2 separate regions of the Homo sapiens genome follow, and region 1 is linked to region 2. Evidence: fine-mapped expression QTL. A gene starts in region 2. The other region holds a variant in brackets. All regions are shown on one strand. Distances are between the middles of the regions. Region 1 has its middle 20 kb from the start of ZNF391. Region 2 holds the start of ZNF391 (zinc finger protein 391).

Region 1 (5,381 bases), 19 kb after region 2:
TTGTACTTGTTGCATCCCCAGTGCCTATAAAAGTCCTTATCACAGAGCTGAATGAATGTGAGAATTCAATATGTTAAAATCTAAATTATGAGTTTGACACAAATTTTAGCCTCGTCTATTCATTTCATCAAACATATCAAGACTTACATATATATGCCAGGCACAGTTTTGTTGTTAGGAATATAAAGATGGGAAAATCTTGATTCGTGTGTAGGGGTGGGGATGGCAAAAGATACTCCAAAAGATAATTTCAAAACAGGTAGTAAATGCTATGATAGAGTCTAGGTAACTGCTCTTGTTATCTGGAACCTACTTAAACCATGGATGGTGTCTTAGACTGCTTCTATTGCTGTAAAGGAATACCTAAGCTGGTTAATTTAAAAAGAAAAGAGGCTTATTTGGCTCATAGTTCTGTAGATTATATAAAAAGAATGGCTCCAGCATCTACTTCTGGTGACGGCTTCAAGTTGCTTCCATTCATGGTGGAAGGTGAAAGAGAGCTGGCACGTGCAGAGATTACATGGCAAGAGAAGAAGAAAGCGAGAATGGAGAGGGGGACCAGGCTCTTTTTAACAACCGGCTTTAGCCTGGAGCGGTAGCTCACACCTGTAATCCCAGCACTTTGGGAGGCCGAGGCGGATGGATCACGAGGTCAAGAGATTGAGACCATCCTGGCCAACATGGTGGAACCCATCTCTACTAAAAATACAAAAATTAGCCGAGAGTGGTGGCGGGTGCCTGTAGTCCCAGCTACTCAGGAGGCTGAGGCAGGAGAATCGCTTTATCCCGGGAGGCGGAGGGTGCAGTGAGCCAAGATTGTGCTAATGCACTCCAACCTGGCGACAGAGTGAGACTCCACCTCAACCAAAGTAAATAAATAAATGAATAAATCAGCTCTTGCAGGAACTAATAGAGTGAGAACCTTACTATGGGGGACAATACCAAGCCATTCATGAGGGATTCACCGCCGTGATCCAAAGCTTCCCATTAGGCCCACCTCCAACATTGGGAATTGAATTTCAACAAGAGGTTTGGGAAGGCAAACATTCAAACTATTGAGAATGCAATGCCTGTGGCGTTTCTGTGGTCATGAGGTGGCAAGGAATGTTTGGTTGCCTTTACTTCCTGGAGCTGAAGATTCAGTTGGTATGACTTCAAAAACATACCACATATGTGGATTTCTAGACCAGTGCTATGCAATATAACTTTTGTGGATATTTTTGATGTATACATTGCTCGGTACAGTAGCCACTAACCACATTAGCTATTGAGCACTGAAATGTGACTATTGCAATTGAAGAATTAAGTCTTTTATTTAATTTTAATTTAAATAGCTACATGTGGGGAATGGCTACCATATTGGAGAGTGTAGTTCTAGAATATCAAGTGGTTGCTATAGACACAAGCTGACTTCTTCGTAGCTCCTCTCTCTTCCCTCAGAGCCACTGTCTCAAGACTCTGCCCTTCTTCAAGAGAAGAGCCCAGAAGAAGAGAGAATGACTGCTAGGCCCTTTATGGCTGGATTCAGGGTGAGCTGGATTTTCTTTTCATTTCCTGAAATATCTTATATTTTCTACTTTCATTCTGGTGGTTTGGGGCCCAAAAAAACTTCAATTCAGTCACTTGAATTCCAGATATTTTATTTTCTAGGAACCAAGGCCTATTCTCTTTGATCATGAATTTTATAAGATTGGTTGTCTATTGCCACCTGCCTTCCCATAGTGTTTTTGTTTTTGTTGTTTGTTTGTTTGTTTGTTTCTGGTAACTAGCATAGCATTTAGTAACTAGCATTTGATAACTAGCATAGCAGGTAGGCTCTCAATTAGGCATTGTCTGTGGTATTCAGTTCTTCAGCAGCCTTGTCTAACCAAGGAGTTAAGGAAGAATTCAAGGAAACACACACATCCATTTTAAGTAGTAAAGAGAAAACATCCCATAGGAGTTCAGAGAAGGAGAGTGTGATTTGGAGGATTTTATGAAGGGGTGGAATTTTGGTGTGCACTGAGATATGGTTGCAATTTTGTCAAAGGAGAACTGAGGGATTTTAAGGGAAGAAAATATAAGACAAAACTTAGAGGTAGAAGAGACCGTGTCTTCTATGGGCAATGGGTAGTAGCCATATATTGAAAATTTTAAGGGTGAAATTTGCTGTGCTAAGTAGGACTAAGGGTTTGACTTTGTTGTAGAGCTGATTGTGAATTATTAGAAACTTTGGGAAAAAAAATGCCATGACACAGCTTGTTTTGGTAAGGAACAGTAATGGTTTGGTTTAGATTTAGGGGATGAAAGAGAAAGGAATTAAAAGTAACTCCAGTTAAGAGAACCTAGAATATCTAAGAGGAATAAGGTGCTTTGGAAGAGACACCAGTGTGCTGTGGAGGGGACATAGGTGGGATACTAATTGGGGTGAGTTAGCATTGTAAATAGATTATGTTAAGGTAATAAGACAAGTTGAAAATGTCATAGGATCCTTGGGTTATTGCTTCGCCAGCCAGAAGCCTCTATGGCCGGCAGCTCCTTCTGCCTGAGTAATTGAGTATTGGTTTTACCACTGGGCTCGTTCCACCCACTCAGCCTGGCAGGCTGTGCTCAACTCACACTACTGTCTCAGATCCCACATCTGCCAAGGGTGAGCCACACAGCAAGGGGTGTGTGGGCAAGTGAGCATGGGGTCTGGCCAGTGAGCACAACCAAGCATGCTGGCTGCTGTGGTGGTGCAAGCAGCTCTGCACAAGGCTGCAGCTGGAACAGATATACCGCATGCAATGGAAGTACTTCCACTGTGGGCACCCATGTCTGGACAAGGGGAAAGCAATGGCTTCTGGAAGCTTGGAGATGCCAGGAGCCACAGAGCCCCAAAGAGGGTGTCATAGTGCTGGCTCAGGGAGTCTCTAGATCTAGGCTCACTTAAGGGCTACAGCTCTTCTTTTCATTGCCTGCAATGTGGCAGATGG[A/G]GAGGCGTGTTTCAACCCTGTTTGTGTTAAAGCTTTTTCAGTCCTTCCATTTGGCAGGTCCCAAGTTTTTGGCCCATGCTTGGTCCATGTCCAGGAAGAATGAGGTATGTGGACAACTGGAGGGTGAGCAAGGTGGAGAGGAGCTTCATTGAGTGACAGAACAGCTCTCAGGAGACCCAAAGTGGGTGGCTTCTTTCCACAGACAGGTTGTATCCATGAGTGTCCAGCTGTCAGCAGAGAGGAGACCTGCAGTGGGTAGCTCGTTTCCGCAGTTAGGTCCTCCCCATGTCTGTTTGAATCTGACTGAGTCTGAGGTTTTTATGAGCTCAGAAGGGAGGAAGTGCGTGCTGATTGGTCCACGGTGGCCACGGGTGGCTGGAAGAAGCACCAGAAGTTCTCACTTAAGGCCAGGCTGTGGATTGCAGCCAGAACTGACAGCCCAGCCCCCATGTGTTAGGCCATCCCTGGCTGGAGGGTGGGGCTTCAAAGGGGACCCACCCCTTTCCACCCAGGAGCCTGTATGCCTCCTGTCACCATCAATTATGTCCTCCATGGTGCCCAGGCTGTTTGTGCTGGGCCTGAAGGCCCACACTGAGCCACCCTCAACCCGGCTCCAGCCTCCTTCCCATGCTCTTCAGTGCCCAAAGTCTGGAGGGGGGAAAGGTGGCAGGGGCTGGCATGTCAGCGCTGCCCTGAGCACACCTGGTCAGGTCGTGACTGCACCCAGGCTCAGCCTCAACTTTGCTGTAAAATCAGAGTGGATGCCAGGACCAGGGAGATGCCAAGCAGTGGGAGCAGGCACTTTGGAGCCTGTGGAGGACAGGGCTTCCAGGGCCCGCAAGAGCACAGGGATGCCCAGGTTCACAGCCACAGCTGGGCAGCTGCAGCTGTTCCTGGAAGAGTGGGGTTCCCGCCCCACCAACTTTCATGTTGAATTATAATCCCCAGTGTTGGAGGAGGGGCCTGGTAGGAGGTGATAGATCATAGGGGCAGATATCCACCTTGCTGTTCTTTTGATAGTGAGTGAGTTCTCACAAGATCTGGTTGTTTAAAAGTGGGTGGCACCTGCCCTCTCTCTCTCTCTTCCTCCTTCTCCAGCCATGTAAGGCATGCCTGCTTCCCCTTCACCTTCCACCATGATTGTAAGTTTCCTGAGGCCTCCCCAGGTGTGCTTCCTGTACAGCCTGTGGAATGGTGAGTCAATTAAATTTATTTTCTTTATAAATTAACCTGGTCTTAGGTAGTTCTTTGTAGCAATGCAAGAACAGACCAATAAATAATATACAATGTATTTATGTAGCGAGTGTATTGTTTGTCTTTCTTACTATGGAGTATGCTCTATGTAGGCAGAGTTTTTTTCTTTTTGTTTTGTTTTGTTTTTTAGTCTCTTTCACTGTTATATCACCGTGCCTAGAGTATTTAGCATATAGTACTCATTAAACTTGTGTTGAATAAATGTTGAATGATTTAAAACAATTAAAAGTTTATGCTCTCCAACCTCAAAATGCCTCCTCGATAATCTTGGCAGTCCCTAACACTTCTGTGGAAAACTTAATTTGCTATATTAATTTTAATCTTCATATGGCTGAATTTTAAGGTTTTCTCTTAAAAATCTTAAATTTTCTTACAGACTTTTAAACTACGTTTTTAGTAGCTGCTCTAGGGATTACAATATATATCGTTACTTCTTCACAATCTTCTTAGATTTAATGTGTCACTTCACAAAAAGTGGAAGCCTTGCAACTATATGTGTTCAATTATGACACCTCGTTCTTTTTGTTCTGCTTGTTGTTCTGTGTGTTACATCTACATATGTTATAAGTTGTTCAAGAAAATGTTATGTATATATTTTAAATAGTTATATATATTATAAAGAAATAAAGACAAAAGCAGCCAGGCGTGGTGGCTCATGTCTGCAATCCCAGGACTTTGGGAGACCAAGACAGGTGCATCGCTTGAGCTCAGGAGTTCAAGACCAGCCTAGCCAACATGGTTAAACCCTGTCTCTACTAAAACTTAAAAAAAAATACCTAGGCCTGTTGGTGCATGCCCGTGGTCCCAGCTACTTGGGTGGCTGAGGTGGGAGGATCACTTGAACCCAGGGTCAGAGGTTGCAGTGAGCCGAGATTGTGCCACTGCACTCCAGCCAAGATGACAGAGAAAAACCTGTCTCAAAAAAGAAAAAGAGGAAAAAAAAATAAAGATAAAAGCAAACTTTTAAAAACAAATTTTAATTTGCCCAATGATTTCTAAATGCTCTTTATTTCTTTATTTCTTTTTGGGAATCAGAATTTCTATCTGGTGTGATTTCCCTTCATCCAGAACTTTCTTAATTATTTCTGCATTAATCAAACAAAATTCACAGTGGCACTCCATCCATTTAGCCACTCTAGCCAGAGTCCAGAAATCCATCTTTATAGTCCCTTT
Region 2 (5,381 bases):
CAAACTTTCTCTAAACCCTTTAGGTGATCCAGCCTCTTTGACGTTCTCTTCATATGGGGTATGAGTTCAAAGACACTATGGCACTAGTCCCCTTACTTCTTCCTGAGGGTCAAAATAGAAGACAGATGACACTGCTTACAGCTGCACTTCCTTGGTCAAGTCACTTTTCTGAAAAATCTCGTCCCACATTATAAAACACCATTACTAGCATGTGCTTGTCTTTTCTTACAAAACTTTCATCAATACTGCAAGTTAAACTATGGCAAAACATTTACAATAAAGAATATCATATATAGTATAAGGGAGATGATGCTATTGCTGTGCTCATCTCACATCAATGAATTTGAAAACTGTGATGGTGTATGTTTAAGGAAAGATGCTGTCAGAGGATTTATGAGTCTCCCTTCAGCAGCTGCTGCTCTAGAGCATGGAGAGATGCATTCTTTTTCCTGGCTTTGGAGGATGTATGTAAGATGGGAAAAGGAAGTCTAGCGGATGTGACAAAAGTTTCAGGGATAGCCCCCAAACATATTTCAGAGATGCTAGGAGGTTAGGGCTATACCTTTATCCAGAGTCCATCCAAGGGATTCCTCCACCATAATGTGGAAAGTTGCCTCTCCTTTTCTCCTTTCTTCCTCATACTTTCATTATTTGAGTCACCTTACTGCTCTCTGGATACTGTATCCCTACAAAATCATTATTCTCTTAAGTGGTCACAACATGCTGCAGCCCTAGCCAACCTGGTGGTTTGCTATTCCTTTATGTGACTCAAACTTTTTAGCACTAACAGCGCTGGCCACCACAGTTACCCTAATTATCTAAAATTCTTTTGACATTGCTTGTCTCTCCTATAATCAATTCCTGATCCAGGGATAATTCTCCTTTATTTTCTACCCCCTTCAGAAGGAAGAAGGTTTTGAAGGGTCAGGAATAGGGCTTCTCTGGGTGCTTTGTTTTGTGGCACTAGGTTGATTGCTTCCTGGAGCCTTTGCCAATCCACAAAGCAATCAGCAGAACTGCCTGGGCAGCCTCAGTTTAATCACAGAATAGAGAAAATCTTGTCCTACCAAAGGTGATCTTCAGGTAACAATGTTCCCAGATATTGGCTCAAAGCACAAACTCACACATAAAGCACAAACTCAATGATCCACAGTAACTGTCAATACACCCACAACAAATAATTAACAACTACTTTATTCAAGTACCAACCTTCATCATCAGAAACATAAACTAAGGACTGGCACTCAAGCAAGTACTTCTCTTTTTTGGGGGGGAGGGGCGCGGAGTTTCACTCTTGTTGCCTACGCTGGAGTGCAGTGGCGTGGTCTCTGCTCGCTCCAACCTCTGCCTCCCGGGTACAAGTGATTCTCCTGCCTCAGCCTCCCGAGTAGCAGGGATTACAGGCGCGCGCCACCACTCCCACCTAATTTTTGTATTTTTAGTAGAGAACGGGTTTCACCGTATTGGCCAGGCTGGTCTCGACCTCAGGTGATCCGCCCGCCTTGGCCTCCCAAAGTGCTGGGATTACAGGCGTGAGCCACTGCGCCCGGCCAAGCAAGTACTTCATCTCTGTGTGCCTCAATTTCCTTATCTGTAACATGGGCATAATAATAGTACATTACTTCATAGGGTTGATGCAAGGATTAAATGAGTTAATGCAGGTAAAAACTCTTGGAGCAGTGCCTGCACTCAGTAAGCACCTGGGAAACACCCCAGTACCGAAGACCTCCCTCGCCCAGCTAGAGGGGAAGCAGGGAGCAACCCTGCTCTTTTTCATCTCCCAGGGATACACCCGGGGAAAACCACTGGCTGTCACTGCCGCAGAGGGACTAGGCTGGCCCGCCAGTGAGACGAGCGCTGGGGGCTTCATGACCCCACGCCACGCGGCGTCCCAACCGTGGAGGTGCCTCCTGACCCGACCTGCAGCCAAACCACACGCGACCCTTTCGCCCGTTTCCTTCGAAGAACCCGTGTTTCCGCTTTCCAGAACCTCTAAGAGCACCCACCTTGGTCCCGGGGCCCTGTAAGCCTCACTCACCGGCCGCCTCCGGCCGAGTACCCCCGACACACCCCGGGCGGGTCCCGCACTTGGAGCGGAACCTGAGTGCGCTGGGCTTGGGGAAGTCGGAAGGATTAAAGAGAAACCCATGCGTCGAACCGCTGCTCCAACGCCCATCAGGTTCCCTAAGATCACAGGCACTCTTCCACTCAGACTGCTGCTGATCATGCTCTGCTCGGTATGCGGGACCAGTCATTGTCTGGGCAGTCGCCTGGACCTAAGTCTCCTGACGCGGACGACCAGTTGCAAAACAGAGACCACACTGAGACTGAGCAACGTATCAGCAGCGGTCGCAGCTCTGCGCTTGCGCCTGAGAGCCAGCTACAGCAGGGCTGTGCTGGGATTCACTTTCGTGGAAGGTTTTGCAAAGCCCCTCCCCTGGTATGCGAGAGGCTGAGAGGTTGGCGCTAGAGGCAAGAGGAAGGGGGTCTGCGAGAGGTGCCGAAGACCACCTTAATACACTGCAAAGTATAGCCTAGACCGGTGGTTCACAGAGTTTTAAATAGCGTACACAAATAAATCACCAAGTGAGCTTGTTAAAATACAGCTTCACAAGATTTACACTCCGAGATTGACTCGTTGGCCCGGAACATTGCATTTTCAAGGGGCACCCCAGATGATTCTGATGCAAGTGGTCTCTCCAGCCTGTCTGGAGAAACTGGCTCCGTTGCACAATCTAGTTGCTTAAATACTGTTAAATGCAAGACATGTCTCAAATTTCACCAAAAGAAAAAAATGAATAAAATCAGGACACTACCCTAATCTAGTAGATTTTTTAAAATTCCAGATAATTTTAATATAAGGTAATGAAGTTGCACAATGTGCCCTGGGAGTTCAGAGCAGGGGAAACTTATGGAACGAGGGACACTGGAGTGGTTTGACTAATGGAAGATTTAATGGAAAACATAAAGGAGGGCAACCTTACAAATAGTTGAGGAACTAGAAGAGTGGAAAGCATGTGCAAAACTGCAGGTCTGATACATGACAGCTGTGCACAAGTACCATAGAAACATCAAGTAAGTATAAAGCATGAGCCATGAAGTACAAAGGAGCAGGATCCAAATTATAAAGCTGGAAAGAATTAGATAAAGTCTAATTTTATCATTTCCTATTTTTAAAAATTAAAAACACTTTCAAACTGTGGTAAACTATGCACAACATTAAAGTTACCATTTTAAAGTCATACAGTAAAGTTTTTAGCGTATTCACAACAGCACCGTCACTATCTAATTCTAGAACATTTTCGTCATCCCTAAAGATGCCCATTGAGCAGTCTCTATTCCCTGCTCCCCACAGTCCCTGGTAACCTTTATTTTACACTATGTTTCTATGAATTTGCCTGTTCTAGATATGCCATATAAGTAAAATAATACAATATTTGTCTATTTATGTCTGGATTATTTTTAATTAGCATAAAGTTTTCAAGGTTCATTCATACTGCAGCATGTATCCTTCATGCCTTTTAATGGCTAAATAATATTCCTTCGTGTATATGTGTGTGTTTATACACAAACAGTGTATAAATATACATACATAATATTTTGTTTATCCATTAATCTCTTGTTGAACACTTGGGTGGTTCCTGCCTTTTGGCCATTGTGAATAATGCTGCTGTGAACATTGGTGTACAAGTATCTGAGTCACTGTTTTCAATTCTTTGGGTATACACCTAGGCATTGAATTGCTATATCATATGGTAACTCTGCAATCAGCTTTCTAGAGGAACCATCAAACTGTTTTCCATAATGGCTGCATCGTTTTACATTCCCATCAGCAGTGCAGGAGGGTTCTAGTTCTCCACATCTTTGCTAACACTTGTTAACTTCTGTTTTGTTGTAGTTGTAGTATTATAACCATCATAATGGGTATAAGCTTTATCTCATTGTGGCTTTAATTTGCATTTCCCTAATGGCTAGTGATGTTGAGCATCTTGTCATGTACTTATTTGTGTGTCTTCTTTGGAGAAATGTCTGTTCAAATCCTTTGCCTATTTTTGAATTAGGTTTTGTTGTGTTGCATGAGTTTTTGTATATTCCAGATATTCTTCTTCAGATATGATTTGCAAATATTTTCTCCCAGTCTGTGAAGTTTTTCTCTCTTTTGATAGTGTCCTTTGATGCATAAAACTTTTTAATTTTGATGAAGCTCCATTTATTTATTTTTATCACCTGTGCAATACTTGAAAATTACATTGTCTAATAAAGATTTTTATGTTTTCTGCTAAGAGTTTTATAGTTTTGCTTCTTAAATTTAGGTCCTTGATCCATTTTGGGTTAATTTTTGTAGATGGTGTAAATACTACAACTTTATTATTTTGCATTTGGATATCCAGTTTTCCCAGCACCATTTGTTGAAAATACTGTCCATTTCCCATTGAATGGTCTTGGCACTTGTTGAAAATCAATCAATCAACCGTATATGTGAGGTTTATTTCTGGGCTCTCTTTTCTATTTTATTGGTCTATATTCCTATTCTTATTCCAGCACCACACTCTTTAGGTTACTGTAGGCTTGTGTAAAGTTTTGAAATTATGAAGTATGTGTCTTTAAACTTTATTCTTTTCTCCAAGGTTTTCATTGGTTATTCAGGGTAATTTGATTTTCCATGTGAATTTTAGGATGGGATTTTCTATTTCTGCAAACAAATGTTGAAATTTTTATAAGGAATACATTGAATCTGTATATCAAATTGTATTATCATCTTATCAGTAGTTAGTCTTCCAACCCATGAACATGGGATGTCTTTCCAATTATTTAGGTCTTCTTTAATTTCTTTAAGCAATTGCAGTATTCAGCATACAGGTCTTTCACTTCCTTGGTTAAATTTATTCCTAGGTATTTTTATGCTATTTCTAATATGTATATATTCATTGCCATAAATTCCCCCTAAGCACTGCTTTCACAGCATTCTATAAATTTTGATAAGTTGTGTTTTCATTTTCATGTAGTTTGAAGTATCTTTTAATTGCTCTTGGCATTTCTTCTTTGACCCATGTATTATTTAGAAGTGTATTGCTTAATCTCCAAGTATGTGGGAGATTTTCCAATGATCTTTCTGTTATTGATTTCTAGTTAACTCTAATGTCATCTGAGATAAATCATTGTATGATTTCTATTCTTTTAAATTTGTTAAGTTATGTTTTACAGCCCAGAACATGGTCTATATTGATTAATGTTCCATGTGAGTTTGAGAAGAAAGAGTATTCTGCTGTTCTTGGATGAAGTCTATAGATGGCCATTATATCTAGTTGATTGATGATGTTGTTGATTTCAACTATATCCTTACTGATTTTCTGCTTCCTGGATCTGCCCATTTCTGATAA

Evidence for each region. PIP is the estimated chance that this variant, and not a neighbour inherited with it, causes the effect. A credible set is the group of variants that fine-mapping cannot tell apart.
Region 1: its variant is the best candidate, but not a certain one, in a credible set for the expression of ZNF391 in esophagus muscle (GTEx, PIP 0.62).

The regions. Positions count from the first base shown.
Region 1 is chr6:27,366,284-27,371,664 of GRCh38, reverse strand. It overlaps the pseudogene ZNF204P. Among named protein-coding and RNA genes, the nearest start is that of ZNF391, 20 kb to the left of the region's middle. RefSeq lists enhancers at 3,145-3,645, 3,646-4,146. The variant A/G (reference allele first, on the strand shown) is at 2,955.
Region 2 is chr6:27,385,701-27,391,081 of GRCh38, reverse strand. ZNF391 (zinc finger protein 391) reads right to left here and starts at 2,323. Exons shown (of 3, transcript NM_001076781.3): 1 at 2,007-2,323.